2 linked regions of the Homo sapiens genome follow. The protein of the gene in region 1 interacts with the protein of each later gene in a pairwise test. Each region holds a gene or a part of one and is shown on either strand. Other genes may lie near its edges. The genes, in order: ARL6IP5 and ARL6.

Evidence for each region.
Region 2: the proteins of ARL6IP5 (region 1) and ARL6 interact in a two-hybrid assay, tested with the Homo sapiens proteins (one study listed by BioGRID).

Annotation. Positions count from the first base shown.
Region 1 is NC_000003.12:69,087,659-69,095,623, reverse strand, and holds part of ARL6IP5 (PRA1 family protein 3), read right to left. Parts: intron 1-7,965. UniProt on the Homo sapiens protein: Regulates intracellular concentrations of taurine and glutamate. Negatively modulates SLC1A1/EAAC1 glutamate transport activity by decreasing its affinity for glutamate in a PKC activity-dependent manner.
Region 2 is NC_000003.12:97,781,172-97,789,136, forward strand, and holds part of ARL6 (ADP-ribosylation factor-like protein 6), read left to right. Parts: intron 1-3,783; coding exon 3,784-3,878; intron 3,879-6,818; coding exon 6,819-6,948; intron 6,949-7,965. UniProt on the Homo sapiens protein: Involved in membrane protein trafficking at the base of the ciliary organelle. Mediates recruitment onto plasma membrane of the BBSome complex which would constitute a coat complex required for sorting of specific membrane proteins to the primary cilia.

The sequences.
Region 1 (7,965 bases):
GTTCAGGAGGCTGAGACACGAGAATCACTTGAACCTGGGAGGTGGAGGTTGAAGTGAGCTGAGATTGTGCCACTCCAGCGTGGGTGACAGAGCCAGACTCCGTCTCAAAAAAAAAAAAAAGAACGAGGGATGGTGAGAAAGAAGGGAGAAACAGCAGGACCTAGTTTTGCAACTCAAAAACCGTTATGTTTTTCTATTGTGAAATTAAAAATATATTAATACATATGTTTGTATATATTTTAATTATATATATTTAAAATATGAACATGTATTACCCAATTCCAATAAATAATTAATAAATCTTTCCCTATAATAGTTACACATTCTAGAGCAGTCATTTATGGTTATAAAAAGGTTTAGAATCCCATCACAGAAATTTTGTAGCAGTCTTCAAAGATGAATCAGTCTAGTCCAATTATACAGATAACTAAACTGAGGCCCAGAGAAGAAACATATCCAAAGGGATCCAGGAGAGAAACAAGAAAACAAGGGTGCCAGTTGTGGCAGCAACTCACAGTAGAACCCATTCTGTCATGTTAACCGGCTTTAAGGATTTCCCCCACACTCTAAGTAACCTACTATAACCAAGGATCATCCTGGAAAATCCCTCTGCACTCTCATTTCTCTCTGAAACAAGGTGGCTATTAGTGGGTGTGGATACAGGTCCTAAACTTCCCAACGTGATTCAGTAGCTATGTCTATAGTTTTACCACAAGTTACTGAAAGGGGAAAAAAAAATCTCACAAAATTTTAGAGCTAGGAAGGATCTTGCTAACCCACCTCATTTTACACGTAAGCAAGCTAAAGAATATACAAGTTAATAAATTTGTCCAAGGCCACCAATTGCAAAGTTGGCAATAAAAGTTTGCCATAACAGAAATCCTCGGATCAACTCAAGGCCACATTTGGTGACTCCTGTCAGGCTGCAAGGCCAAAAAGAACCACCAAAGAGGCAGCAAAATATTTCCTGAGGAGTACAGGCAGCTTTGCACTGAGTTCCAATTTTCTAGCCGAAAAAGCTATTTTTGAAGTGTGGTTTCTGAGGAAGGCTGACTCACCGAAAAAGTGGGGAACAATATACTCACGGTGGACTTCTCTAAATTGGCGATGTTTCTCTGTGGTCCTTAATCAGCCAGAGGGATCACTGCAAATATGAACCCACCCAACCATTTTCTTTTCATTGTTCTTAAACTAAAAACAGAATTCTTTAAACATTCTACAAGGCTTCGCAGGGTCTGGCCCCTGCCTGCCTCTGCAGCCAGGGCCACTGTATATAGGTGTGGAGTTGGTGCCTGGCTGAGGGGGTAAGTGGGGCCTGGAATCCAGGTCACACACTCCACAAGCCAAGGCCAAAATTTGGCTTTGGCTGTAACTGCTAGGAGAGGAAGAAGTGCCTTAGTAATTAGCATGAGGGAACTCTCAGGGCTAGCAGCTGGCCTACCTGCCAGGTTTGTCACACCATCTCCTGATTGCACCCCCATCCACTCAGGGTTTCTATCTACCCCAGAACTCACCTTGCCTTTTGCCATCTCAGGGTGAGGTGAATCAGGCAGAGAGGATACTTTGCACACAGGCCTCACTCCACCCTCCTTCAAGTCTCAGCTCAGCCAGCCTTTCCTCAGTCTCTCTGACCAGAGCACAGCTCCATATGCCTTTTCTTTTCTTTCCTCAAGAAAGGTTCTTCCTCTGTCACTCAAGCTGGAGTATGATGGCATGGTCATAGCTCACTGCAGCCTCTTTCTCCCACACTCAAGTGACCTTCCTCAGCCTTCTGAGTAGCTGAAACTACAGACTACAGGTGAGTGCCAGCTTGCCTGGCTAATTTTTAATTTTTTTCTTTTCTTTTCTTTTTTTTTTTTTTTTGAGACAGAATCTCCCTCTGTCGGCAGGCTGAAGTGCAGTGACACAATCTTGGCTCGCTGCAACCTCTGACTCCCTGGTTCAAACAATTCTCCTGCCTCAGCCTCTCCAGTAGCTGGGATTAAAGCATGCGCCACCACACCCAGCTAATTTTTACATTTTTAGTAGAGACGATGTTTCACCATGTTGGCCAGGCTGGTCTCGAACTCCTGACCTCAAGTGATCTGCCTGCCTCAGCCTCCCAAAGTGGAGAGCTATTTTTGACTATAGGCATAAATGTGGGCTTTGGACACAAATTCGTCTTGAGTAAATGAGAACAGTGTCTCCTTGGCCTAAGGATCATGGAATAAAGGAGACTGTACAGTAGGTAAAACTGAACAGGAGCCTGTCTCTTTTGTTACAGAAAGGTCATAGTGAGATTTTCCTAACCAACTGAATTAGGAAGGCCTAGAGGATTTATTGTATTCTTGCCATTCCCTAAATATTTACTGTATCCTGTGTAATTTGGCACAAATTAAACACTCGCATCCAAACCAACCATTGTCTTTTTAACAGTTGGCATGTTAAAAGTGTTCATACTAAGACATGCCTTAGGAACCTCCAGATTTTCTTTTGTTTTTAATAAACAACAGGTTGGACTCGGATTAGAAACCATAAATCTGACGCTTCCCACAGTGACGGAGCTTCAAATAATAGTTGTGTACAAAGCTCTGATTAGACTTCATAAAACCCTTTTTAACTTTTCATTATGGAAAACTAACATATACATAGGTAGAGAGAATAATGTATAATGAATCTTCATGTATGCTCATCACTGCTTTCACAATTAGCAACCCATGGTTACTCTTAACAACCAATACTTTTTGGGGAACAGAAGTGGAAAGATATTTGTTTACAAACTGTTCTTCTTGAATGATTTTAGAAAATTAAAAAAAAAAAAAAAAGGCTGGGTACAGTGGCTCACACCTGTAATCCCAGCACTTTGGGAGGCTGAGGTGGGGGGATAACTTGAGGCTAGGAGTTCGACACCAGCCTGGCCAACATGGTGAAACCCCGTCTCTACTTAAAAATACAAAAATTAGCCAGGCATAATTGTGTGTGCCTGTAATCACTTAAAAATACAAAAATTAGCCAGGCATAGTTGTGCGTGCCTGTAATCCCAGCTACTTGGAGGCTAAGGCAGGAGAATCGCTTGAACCTGGGAGGCAGAGGTTGTAGTGAGCCAAGATCCTGCCATGGCATCCAGCTTGGGCGATGCAGAGAGACTCTGTCTTAACAAAACAAAACAAACAAAAGCTACTGAGAACTGTCACATGGCAAATTCTTACAGAGCTGTGGAGAGAAGACAGGGGCTGGACAAATGCTAACGAGCTTGGTAACACAGACTTCCTTCTCACAAGTTTCCTGTCTATTTACCCCTCACTAACCCCCAATTTCTGCATTCTTTTTCCTCTGAGACAAGGAGAAGCTGCACCAATGAGATATGAAGCAGATTAGAAGAAGCAGGGCTTTCTGCCTTCCAGGTGTCTCCTTTAGCAAATTGCATAACGAGAAGGAAGGCCAGGAAATCCTATCATATATCAATGATGAATGCTTGCAAACCTGAAGTTGTTAGCCTGAAGGTTTTGCCTAAAATTACAGGGCTTGAAGGCATTCTCAGAAACAGGAAGCCACGCTCATTTCAAGAGACAGAGGATGGTATTAAGGGTGAAGGCATTCTCAGAAACAGGAAGCCACGCTCATTTCAAGAGACAGAGGATGGTATTAAGGGTTAAGTTTTCTGAAGCTGAGTGATAAGGATAGAATTCATTTGTCCAAAAAATAAAAAATACAAAATTTCCAATATTGATGCTTAATTAGATATTAAGTGGGTAGGTCAAGAATGGGTCTTGACCTTTTTGAACTGGATTTCCTGTACAGAGCTCTCTGTCCCTAAGCTGATGGAGAGCTTCTCCTTTCTAAGACAGGGGGCCAGGAATCCAAAATACACTCATTTATTTGCACACTTACCTAGAATCATTGTAAATCCTTACCTAGGGAAAGGAAACAGAAACTACCAACCAAAGGCCAAAAGTAGCAGGCAACATTGAAAAAAAAAAAAAAAAAAAAGCTGGACGGAGAGGGGAGAGAAGTTCAGATAAACAAAGTTACATAAATAGTATCAAAGGTGTGCCAGCCATACCTCTCGCCTGTCATCCCAGCACTTTCGGAGACCAAGGCAGGAGGATTGCTTGAGCCCAGGAGTTCGAAACCAGCCTGGGCAACATGGCAAAAACCCTTCTCTACAAAAAAAAATACAACAATTAGCCAGGCTGGTGGCACATGCCTATAGTCCCAGCTACTTAAGATGCTGAGGCAGGAGGATCACCTGAGCCCAGGGAGGTAGAGGCTGTAGTGAGCCATGACTGCGCCACCATACTCCAGCCTGGGCAATAGAGTGAAACCCTGTCTCAAAATATATATATATGTATGTATATACACACACATATACACACATACACTGTCAGAGGTTATTTAATGAAAAGCAATCCTTATTAAAGATTTATATTTACTTATTTATTTTTTACACGGCGTCTCACTCTGTTACCCAGGCTGTAGTGCAGTGGCGTGCGTTCTTGGCTCATTGCAACCTCCGCCTCCCACGCTCAAAAGATCCTCCCACCTCAGCCTCCCAAGTAGCTGGGACCACAGATGCATGCCACCACGCCAGGCTAATTTTTTCTATTTTTGGTAGAGATGGGGTTTCGCCATGTTGCCCGGGCTGGTCTTAAACTCCTGAGCTTAGGTGATCTACCCGCCTCGGCCTCCCAAAGGGCTGGGATCACAGGCGTGAGCCATCATGTCCAGCCTAGATAAAGATTTTGAGATTAAAATGTTACTGTGTGTTGACAGACCTCTTAAAGTTCTGTATTCAGAAGAAACACATAAGCCATCAGAGGAAGACAGGTGCCAGCCTCAAATGCAAATAAATGGGCATCGAAGGGCAGGAGAATTCTGGGAGGATTTGGGAAGGCTGGTGGAGTTGTACTCCTGACTGTATCCTCAGGGCCTAGACAGTGTCTACCACATGGTAGGTGCTCAGTATTTGTTCAATGGAATAGAAGGATCTGAGCTGTGGGTTAGGATAGTAAAATTTAAAAAAACCTTTTTCCTGTCTACATACTCAATGCCTCCCCTATTCCCAACACCTGAGAGATTTGGAATTTGGAGTAATAATGTACAGGGGAGATCAGGTAAGTCAGGTTGAGAAGGATGTGTTTATGTAGGTGTGTATTTCTGTACACTTGCTATACTTGTATACAAATTAGTTATCATGTGTTCAGTGTGGTCTTGCTGCCTTTCCGTGAAGGCAGGAATCACAGCTGTCCTATTCTTCACTATCTCCTAGCAGTGTCTGAGAAGTTGGTAAGTGCTTCATACTCTTTGTTAATTGAATGAATGAAGCAACACAAATAAGAGTAATGTTGTAGAACTGGTGTTGAAGCTGACTAATCTCAAAAACATTTCCACTTGCTTTAGTATAAACAGACTGCAACTCATTCTATCTGCAATCATTTCAATAGATTCTGATCCAGAGCCTCCCAGGGTTGCCTTACGCTTTTTTTCCTCTACCAACTGGAAACTTGGTTCTTCATCTTTACAGCATTTAAAGGTACAAACAATACGAACATTTCATAATACCAGATGCTGGGAGCCACAGGCCTAGAACATATTACAGAGCCACCAAGCCACGTTCATTTTGAAAAGATTACATTAATGCTGTTTTCAAACTTATAATTACCAGCCTTCTAGAAACTCCTTACCATCTTGAGTAACTGAAAGCATAAAGTGGCAGCTGTCAATTCCACCCTCCTGCAACATCTCCATAGGCCAAATGATCAGGCCACATGGTGAGGAGTTACTTCAGCTGAGAAATCATGGGCTCATTCCTTCAGCAGCTACATGGTTCTATCTAAAGGGGGAGGCACAAATGTATATACATAAGAATACATGCAGCTCTCTTGCTGGAGAAGCAGCAGAGGCATTTTTATATGTTGCAAATTCTGTGTGTGGTTGGTGATTCTGAGGCCATACCAGAAAATATGAGTTCTAATGGCAGAAAATAATTTTTTTTTTTTTTTTTTTTAGACAGGGTTTCACTATGTTGCCCAGGCTAGTCTTAAACTCCTGGCCTTGAGCAATCCTCCCATCTCTGCCTCCCGAAGTGTTGGGATTACAGGTGTGAGCCACTATACCCATCCAGGAAAGAACTTTTCAGAATAAGACAGCAATAGCATTGCAAATATTGTAAGAGTCAGGGATGCAGTTGAATTTGGTTAATCAAGAGCTTTAGAAAATTTGCAATATGGCTTAATGGAAAAAATATTTCACTTCCTATTATTAGCAGCTTTAGTTCCAATTAGCCTGTGACCTCGAGCTTTTACATTTCAGAAGTTACGGGGTTCAAGAGGATCAGTATTTCTCCTAGGGGTGTATAATCACAATCACTTAGGAAGTTAGAGAAAAAGAAAAAAACAACAGATGCCTGGACCCTGCCAAGAACTATACATTTTGAATCACGGAAGGTGACACCTGGGCATATAGGTATATTTATTTAAATTTTCTTTTGAGCCAGACCAATCCAGTGCCTCTCAGATTTTAATGTACCTATGAATCATCTGAGACTTTTGTTAAAATGTAGATTCTAACCCAGTAGGTCTGAAATGGGGCCTGAGATGCTTCACTTCTGACAAGCTCTCAGGCGAAAGATGCTGCTGTTCCATGGCTCACACACTGAACAGAGTTCTCCAGCTCAAATCATTTGGCATTCCATTAAGCACAAAGAAGTTTTCATCCACAACTAGAATGTATCACACGCTTAGTACTTAAATTGCAAGTGTCATTAGGTGTTGCCTTTGTTTTTCACTTTGAAGATCAAGGTAGAGACTTCTATTGTTGTGTGTGATGTGAAAAGAATATCTTAATCCCAAAACGTCTCACATCAAGGATGCAGAAGGTAAGCTATGGCAACTTCGATCTTAGACACTTTTCCTTCTTGATGTAAAGGATCCAAAGGCATTTCCAGCAAAACGCAAGTTTCCTAGCCTGTTATTCATGCTATTCCTTTTAAATAATTCAATCTCTTCTGATCAGAAGTTTAAACACAGATTTATCTCTATCCTAATCCCTCTTAATCTCCGTCTTGGTATGGGCAGTTTTTTCCAGTGTTTCTGGATCTAGATAGTATTTGCTATGTTCTTCCCTCACCCTTCCTGAAATCTTGAAGAGGAGGCCCTCTCTATCCTCATCTAAGCCAGTTTCCAACATTGGAGAGCTGAGGCTAGAGCACTCCTACAATGCCCTTGAGGCTCTCCTCACCAGCAGGGGATGGAACCATTGTTGAACACTCTTTTATCCAGGTCACATTTTCACATATACTCTACCAAGATATTCTGAGAAACTAGAGAGAAGTCTGTGGAGGATCCAGATGAACAGCTGCCAGCACTGCTCTGACCTACCCATCTACTAGCATCACCGAAAGAGGATAGTTCTCTTTAGAATGAGAAGTGTTCTGGAATCAAGGACGCTCCCTAACTCTGAAGATGTTTGGTTTCTTCCTTGTGACTCATAGTAAGACAGAACAGTAGTTAAGAGCACAAGCCTAAGTTTGTGACTTTGAGTAAATCATTTAACCTCTCTGAGCCTCAGGTTTAATGATAAAAAAAAAGTAACAGTTTTTTAAAATTGGGTTCTATGACATAATGCAGGTAAAATACTTTGCAAGGTACCTGACACACAGAGCACTCAATAAATATTTATATTATTAAATGATAAAGAAAGAAAAGAGAACAACTGGTGGAAAAAACTACTGACTGTGCTTATAGTTGCATAGAAAACAGTTAGGGGTTATATACCAAACTTTTACTGAAGTATGAAGGAAATTTCACATTTTATCCACATAATTTTCAAATCAACCTTTACTACTAGCCTGTATCTTTTGTAAGTTTTTAAAAATAAGGATAAGTTTTAAAAACTTCATGGCTACTTTTCACTTTTTCACTTCAAAATTTTCATTGACAACCAACAACTCTTATTTGAAAGGAAAATGAGGAGGGCCAACACCCC
Region 2 (7,965 bases), about 29 Mb from region 1:
GTATGATGCTCAGCATATAGGCCAGTAAATATTATTGACTAAATTTAGTTAAAAATAACAGTGTTGCCTAACAGTTGATCCATTGTTCTATGAATAATTTGAAACAAGCCATTTTTCAGCATATGCAAGTCAAGTGCTCACTAATTTACACTTGGTCCTTCATGTCCTTGGGTTCTGCATTCCTGGATTAAACCAATTGTAGATCAAAAATATTTGGGGAGAAAAATGCCATAAAGTTCCAAAAAGCAAAACTTAAATTGCCGTGCACAAACTACTGTATTGAAAGCATATAAATGAGGTCATATGTAGGCATTGTATTACGTATTATAAGTAATCTAGGGTGATTTAAAGAATATGGAAGAATTTGCATATGTTATAAGCAAATACTAAGCCATTTTATATAAGAGACTTGAGCATCTGCAGATTTTGGTATTTGAAGGGGATCCTGGAACCAATCCCTCGCCAATTCGGAGGGATGACTATACTTCAGACTAATAGCTGTCAAGTTACTAGGACCCAAATGTGTTATACCTTCTGGAGATTTGCATATGGTAATAAAATAAATTCATTAGCTTCTAATATTGTTAGGACTTCATTTAAGAGCAATGTATTTCACTTTTAGAGTCTGAAACTTAAAAACACTATCTCTTAACTAAACTCTCTTTTGTCATTATGAACTGCTGCCTTGAAATGGTATGTGATATTTACCAGATAAGATTTAGATTTAGATTAACTCTTTCCTAATAATGTGAGACCAAACATTAAATGGTATATATTTGGGATATGAACCAGAGGAAATTTATTCAAATTTTTTTTTCAATGAGTCCTTCAATAAATTGAAGGCCTATTTAAATCGTAGGTCCAGAAGACTTCTGAGAGAGAGGGAAAAGAGAGTGCTTCAGATTCGAGGGTTAGTTTGGAAAAGGAAAAGTGGCATGTTTGTGGTATTCTGCATTAAATTCCTTGGGGAGATGCATTTTATGTGTTTCTTATTTGTTTGTGTGTTTAGGAAACCTGAGTTTTCAGTACAGGATTTTTTAAATTCCTCCTCCAATTAGTTGATAAATAATTCCTTTTAAAAATGTATTTAGCTACTTTAAAAATACTTTAATTTTAATTACAAAAATATATATAGAGAGAAAATAGTAGGAAAGTAAACTTTGTTTTTATTTGATTTTAACTCCTTTTTTCTTTGTACTGTTTTTGGATGAAATTTATGAATTCTAGAATAGAGTGGTTACATTGTAGATTGAATGGAGAATATGATTACTATTGAAAAATCAACAATAAAAGTAAATTTACTTTCCCTATTTTCGTACTTTTCTAACTGTGAAACAAAACAAGTACATTTTGATCTATTAGACTGAAAAAGGTTACAAAGATTAATAAAGTATGCTCTTGTCAAAGTGAGCCACTCCTGTGAGAATGTAATATCTTTTTCAGGGTAATTTATTGATATCTGTTAAAATGAAAAATGTTTATAAACTCCAGCAAGCATTTTTACTTTTAGAAAAGTATTCTATGACCAGGGCTTATGGGCAAAAAAATATACATAGAAGGTTGTATGTTAGCATTATTTATAACATTTTTATATCAATTATGTAAAAATGTTACTATAAATATTTATCTTTGCTATATATATAACCATAGTAGTAAAAAAAAAAAATCAAGGAAATTTACATTTGCTATAAATATGTACTTACTATGTATAGAAAGAAGAAAGTTCTTAGTGGATTATGCACCAAACCATTAGTAGCATTTATTTTTGGAATAGTAGGATTATAAGGGAAGTTTACTTTCTTTTATTTTTCTTTTCTTTTTTTTTTCACATCCTGTTTGGTGAAGAGAGACATTTACTTTCTCATCTATATGATGCCATAATGTTAAATATTATATAATTTTTACATACTATTTTTACAATATAAAAAGGTAATAGCATGCAAAAATATAAGGAGTACACATTTTTTAAATTTGGAAAATATAGAAGAGAATATTGAAAACATGTTTCCCATAAATCTCACTATTCATAAATTCACCATTGTCAATCTTTTTGGTATCTTTCTCCTCCTTTTGAAATATATAACATATACTTTATATAACTAAGGAAAAAGGAACCATCTAAATTATGTACCATGTATAATTTTGTATCTTGCTTTTTTCAGTTAACATGTGGTAAGGGTAAATCAGGAAAAACATGCAATGAATATAACTAACAGCTGCCTAATATTTTTTCACACAGCTTTGCCAAAATTTCTTTAACCATTTCTCTACTCTAGGACATGAAGGCTATTCTGTTTTTGAAAATTGTAAACAGTCCTTCAGTCAAAATCTTGTATAAATCTTAGCCCCAGTTCGTGATTCCTTAGAATGAATTTCAGAAATAAAATCACTGGCTCAAAGTGATTGAACGTTTTTATAGATCTTGATAGGTACTTTGATTGTTCTGGTTTCTATATGTACTGGTAATGTATGTCTGTGATAATCAGCATTATCCTTTTTTAATGATAGGAGAAAATGGTATATAAAAAGTTTTATTTTGTATATCATTTGATTATTAATCACATTGCAGTTTAAATACTTAATTTATGATTAAGTGATTCGCAAAAAAAAGTACAGATGTCCAATAAATATATGAAAAGATATTGAACCTCATTGGCAATTAATGAACTAGATCAAGATAATATGCTGTTAGAATGGCAATTATTGAAAAGAATGATGATAATGATAATAGCCAGTGCTGGCAAAGGAGTGAGAAAAGTACTGAGTCATGTAAATTGATATGGCATTTCTGGAGGACAGTTTGGAAATGTTTTTCTAAAACTTTAAATTATGTATGTAGTCTTAGAAATGTTACTCCTAACATTTCTAATAAATCTTAAAGCATCAGAACTTTTTTAAAAGAAAGGTATGTAGGAGGATATTTGCCTTAAAGTTTTTCATAATGATGAAAATTGGAAATAACCTAAAAGTCCAGCAACAAATGTTTGATACAGTATTTGATGACACATCCATGCAGTGCAATAGTTTAGAACCATTAAAAGAAGATAGTGCAGAGGAATAATCAATAATTTTTCAAGTGCCTATGTGATCCATGGGTGAATCCTTAACTAGTTCAATCACTGGCTATCAGCTTTTAAAAAATCAAATAGAATAAAATAAAAGCTATTTGTAAGTATTTTTTCAGAAGACTTTCACTTAAAATACATCTATATATACCTATGTGTCTACTGTATCTTAATACAAAATGTATTTCTCACTATGGTTTATGGTAAAAATAATTTATAAAAGTAGTAGTAAAACCATAGTAGTAAAAAAAAAAAAAATCAAGGAAATTTACATATGTATTGCAAAGGCAAGGTGTAATACAGGATTCCATTTTAAATACATATATAGTTTATTCATATGTAATATACACAAAGTGTAGCTTTATACCAAAATATTAATAATTATTGCATCGGTGTAATAGGGTTATGGTATTTTAACTCATTTTCTCATATTCTGATATTTTAATGAAAAAATTACTCATTTTTTAAAATTATGAAGTAGCAAGTCATTAAATTTACTTTATTATCCAAATGAAAAGGTATTTTACATGAAATATGACTAATGATTAATATATTTATCAGTCATATAAACTAATAAGAAACAACACCAAAAATTCTAATGATATATGGACATAGGACATAAGGAGATAATACTTAGGTTAGGAAATGCCCATGGATAATAAACATGGAAAAATTTATAAGTAAAGCTTTAATTTTTCTTTTTCTTTACATTACACAGAGAAGGCCAAGCTATTATTTTTGTCATTGATAGTAGTGATAGATTAAGAATGGTTGTGGCCAAAGAAGAACTCGATACTCTTCTGAATCATCCAGGTATGTGTGTGTCTTTCAGTCTGTATCTGTTCTTTGGGGTTCATTTATGTGTAATGTTTTGTTCTTTGGGTATTGCTTATACTATGTAATTATCTTTCATTTAAAATTTTTGAATTTAAAACATATATGTTATACAAAATTTATATTTTATGTACATCACCATATTTTGTAAATTTTGCATGCAATGTAAATGTAAAGCATTTTGCATTGTTTTTGGGGTGTCTAACATTTATTTCCTCAAAAATAAAAATTCCCTTTTTTCTGATTACATAAATTGTACCAAAGCAAAAAAAAAAAAAAAATCAGATGGAAAAATAAAATAAAGATCTGTGTATTTCAACACCCATTAAAATTATTTGTTACCATATTTTCATGCATTTCTCTATGTGTATCTGAGTTTGTGTGTGTTTAATTACAGCATTTCTTACATATTTATTCATATATATATATATATATATCTCCCAAAAATATCTGTAGGGTTGAGGACTGTGGGGACTATCATTGTTATTTACCAAAATGGAATCATATTCTTTACACTCTTCTGCATGTTTCTATTCTCAGTTAACACTTAATGATGGATATCCTTCCAAATCAAATTATATATAATTATGTAGTTATTCTTTTTAATGATGCCTAATATGGTTTACTATGAATGTACCACAGTTTATTTAATCATTCACCTGTTGATGTATACTTTCCTCCCGCCCAAGCCCCCACTACAAACAGTGCTCCAGTAAGTATTGTGGAACTCTGCATTTCTAGCCTTCCTCATGCCAAAAAAATTTAAATAGTGCTTGTGCTAGGACTTTCAGAAAAGGATGGTGGTTTAAGAGAACTGTGGATTTGTTAGAAATGAAATAGAAATAGTGTGGGGCTTTCTAATAAATGTTACTGCTTAACCACAATATCTTTGGTATTTTTAACAGATGACCTCAAGCTTACTGAAATTTTTGAAAAAAAATTATCCGCCCTGTACATTTTATTTGACTTTTTAATGTTAAAAACTTAGCAGTCTTGGCTGGGCGTGGTGGCTCAGGCCTGTAATCCCAGCACTTTGGGAGGGATTACAGGCGGGTGGATCACTTGAGGTCAGGAGTTCGAGACCAGCCTGGCCAACATGGTGAAACCCCATCTCTACTAAAAATACAGAAATTAGCCAGGCACGTGCACTTGTAATCCCATATGCTCAGGAGGCTGAAGCAGGAGAATTGCCTGAACCTGGAAGGTGGAGGTTGCAGTGAACTGAGATAGCACCACTGAGGGCAACGGAGGAGACTCTGTCTCAAAAAAAAAAACAAAAAACTTAGCAGTCTTGTATCTAGATTGATAATGCATTTTTGATTATGTCTTCCTTTCATATTAATCTTTCCAGTTTTTCTCTAAAAAGTGTTTCAGTGTTGAGCAGTAAAATGAAATAGTTCCTATAAAATATACTTCAAACAATGGGGATTTTGATTTCCTCAACTGAAGCCTTGTCTATGGATCTTAATGTACTACTTCCTTTATTTTATGGGATAGATTCCCAAGGGAGGGATTTCTCAGCTGAAGTGTATATGAACTTTTTAAAAAAATTGATGGCCATAAAAAATCTTTGAATAGCAAAATGTACTGTGAACAGATAAAGACAATGACAGGCAAGGGAAAATATTTGCAACTCATATCATAGCTACAGGGATATTTCTATACTACTTGTGTTTCTAAAAATCAGTAAGAATATAAAAGCTTAATAGAAAATGGGGAAAGGACATATCAGGTAAGTCAACAAAAACATAAATTTAAACATCTTTTGAATATATGGAAAGATTCTTGGCCTTTCTATTACCTATGATATGGAAAATATCAAGAAGTTTCATAGCAGTCTTTTGGCTAGGGGAGTGGAAACACTCATTCTTATACGTGGTTGTTGAAGTGTAAATTGATATAATTTTTAAGAGAAAGCAGTTTGGTAATCACTGTCTATCAAAAGAGAAATTTATGTCCTTTGACCCAACAATTCCACATCTTAAATTTATCCTAAGGACATACTGGCCGGTGTACAAAATTACCTATATACACATTTATTCATTACAGGATTGTTCATAGTTGTAAAGATTGGTAACAGGTATCTCAGTTGGGTTCTGGTTAAATAATAGTACATAGTACTAAAAGAAGAAATATTCCAGAACGGTTAAAATAATGAAGAAGCTGCTCTATATGTACTGATATGGGATCAGATCCAAGATATGTAAATAAATGAAAAGATAAAGGTATAAAGTAATGAGGTTGGCCTGCTATATGAAAATAATATATAATAATTATGTTTGCAAATACATAAAATATTTCTATGAAGATGCCAAGACACTGATGTTATGGGTTGCCTTTTCTACAGAGACCATTGTCCTAGGACAAAGTTAGGAAGGAGATTCTTTTACTGTATGCCATTTTGTATCTTCTGAATTTTGAACTATTTAAATGTATTGTCTATTCAAAAAAATGAAAAATGTTTCCAAAATCATGACAAGGTAAAAATATCTTTTAAAAATCTAGCTTGTTACTTATGATATTGTGACAAAAAACTTAAATAAGTTCCCAGTTTCTTTTCCTTCTACTTCTACTTGAAGTTTGCCTCCTTTCTGTTCACCATTAAAAAGGAAACAAAATATTTAATGCTTTTTTGTAGGTACTTCTCTGTAATGCTTATTGAGCTCCAGTCCCACCTCACCCATCTTTGGTTAAAGCTCCTAACCAGAGGGCAGATGGTCCTAGGAAGTATTTTTAAAATTTTGTTACTGCTCAAATACATGCCTAACAGTGTGACAGTATGTGTCTTTAAATGTTTCTGTGTGTGTGATATGAAAAAAGATAATTGAAAAAAAATTTCATGGGTTTCAGTACTAAAGATTTGCTGCAAAATGACCTAAAAAGCTGGAAGTGTGATGATAATCTTATTTTCTCTTTTAGATATTAAACACCGTCGAATTCCAATCTTATTCTTTGCAAATAAAATGGATCTTAGAGATGCAGTGACATCTGTAAAAGTGTCTCAGTTGCTGTGTTTAGAGAACATCAAAGATAAACCCTGGCATATTTGGTAAAGTTTTATATTTACTTTTCACTGTAGCTTTCTGAAAAATATACAAGCTTCAGAGTTGTTTCTTCTGATCTCATTTTTTAAAAATAAGTGATCAAACATGGTGGCATATAAGCTAAGGATTTTGTTTTGTAGAATTGTGGCATTGTAGGTTTTTACAAATATATTACTGTTAAAAACCTTTTTCAAATTTTTGGGGGGATAGGAAAATATAAACAACTCTTATAATGGAATAACTTAAAAGCTCACTTACTTACTGACTTCAGCTACACTGATTTCCTTCTGCACATGGAGTCAGCCAAGCACAGTCCCATCTAAGAGCATGTGCACTTGTATCCCCCTCCTTTGAATCATTTTCCAAAATAATTTTCCTGGCTTGCTAGAGTCACTATTACCATGTGACTGCTTTTTTTTTTGTTTATAGTCTGTCTGCCTATACAGGTGTGTTAGCTCCCTGACAGCTGGGGTTTTGTCAGTTTTCTTCACTTTAATAATCCCTACAATAGTCATAGTGCCTGGTATGTAATAGGTACACAATACATATTTGTTAAAATGAATAAATGGAAATGGAAATTTTAAGTTTACTTAGACATCCTAATAAGGTTGAACTCTTAAGTAATTAATGTTGAAATTGTTATGCATTGTTTGTTTGGAAAACAGTTTCTTATTTAACTCCATTGTGCCTTTCTACCAAAATATTCTAATAAGGATAAACAGAGATTATACATTAGATAGTATTTTAGTGCCTACGACTACCATCTTAAACTCCCTTCTACCCACCCACCTACCTCTCTCTGCTGTAAGAGGTCCTTTCCATGCCAGAGTTTCCCCCTTTTTATAAGAAGGTATCTGTGGGGAAGATTGGAAACAGAAGCAGAGAGATCCACTGCCACAAGAAGGGTGAACTAGAATATGAAGCAAGGAGGTCATAGAGTTCAGAAAACAACTTTAGGAACTAGTTTTGGCGCTGAAAGAGTAATAGTAAAGACCTTAGGAAAGCTCTTGACACTTTCCAGT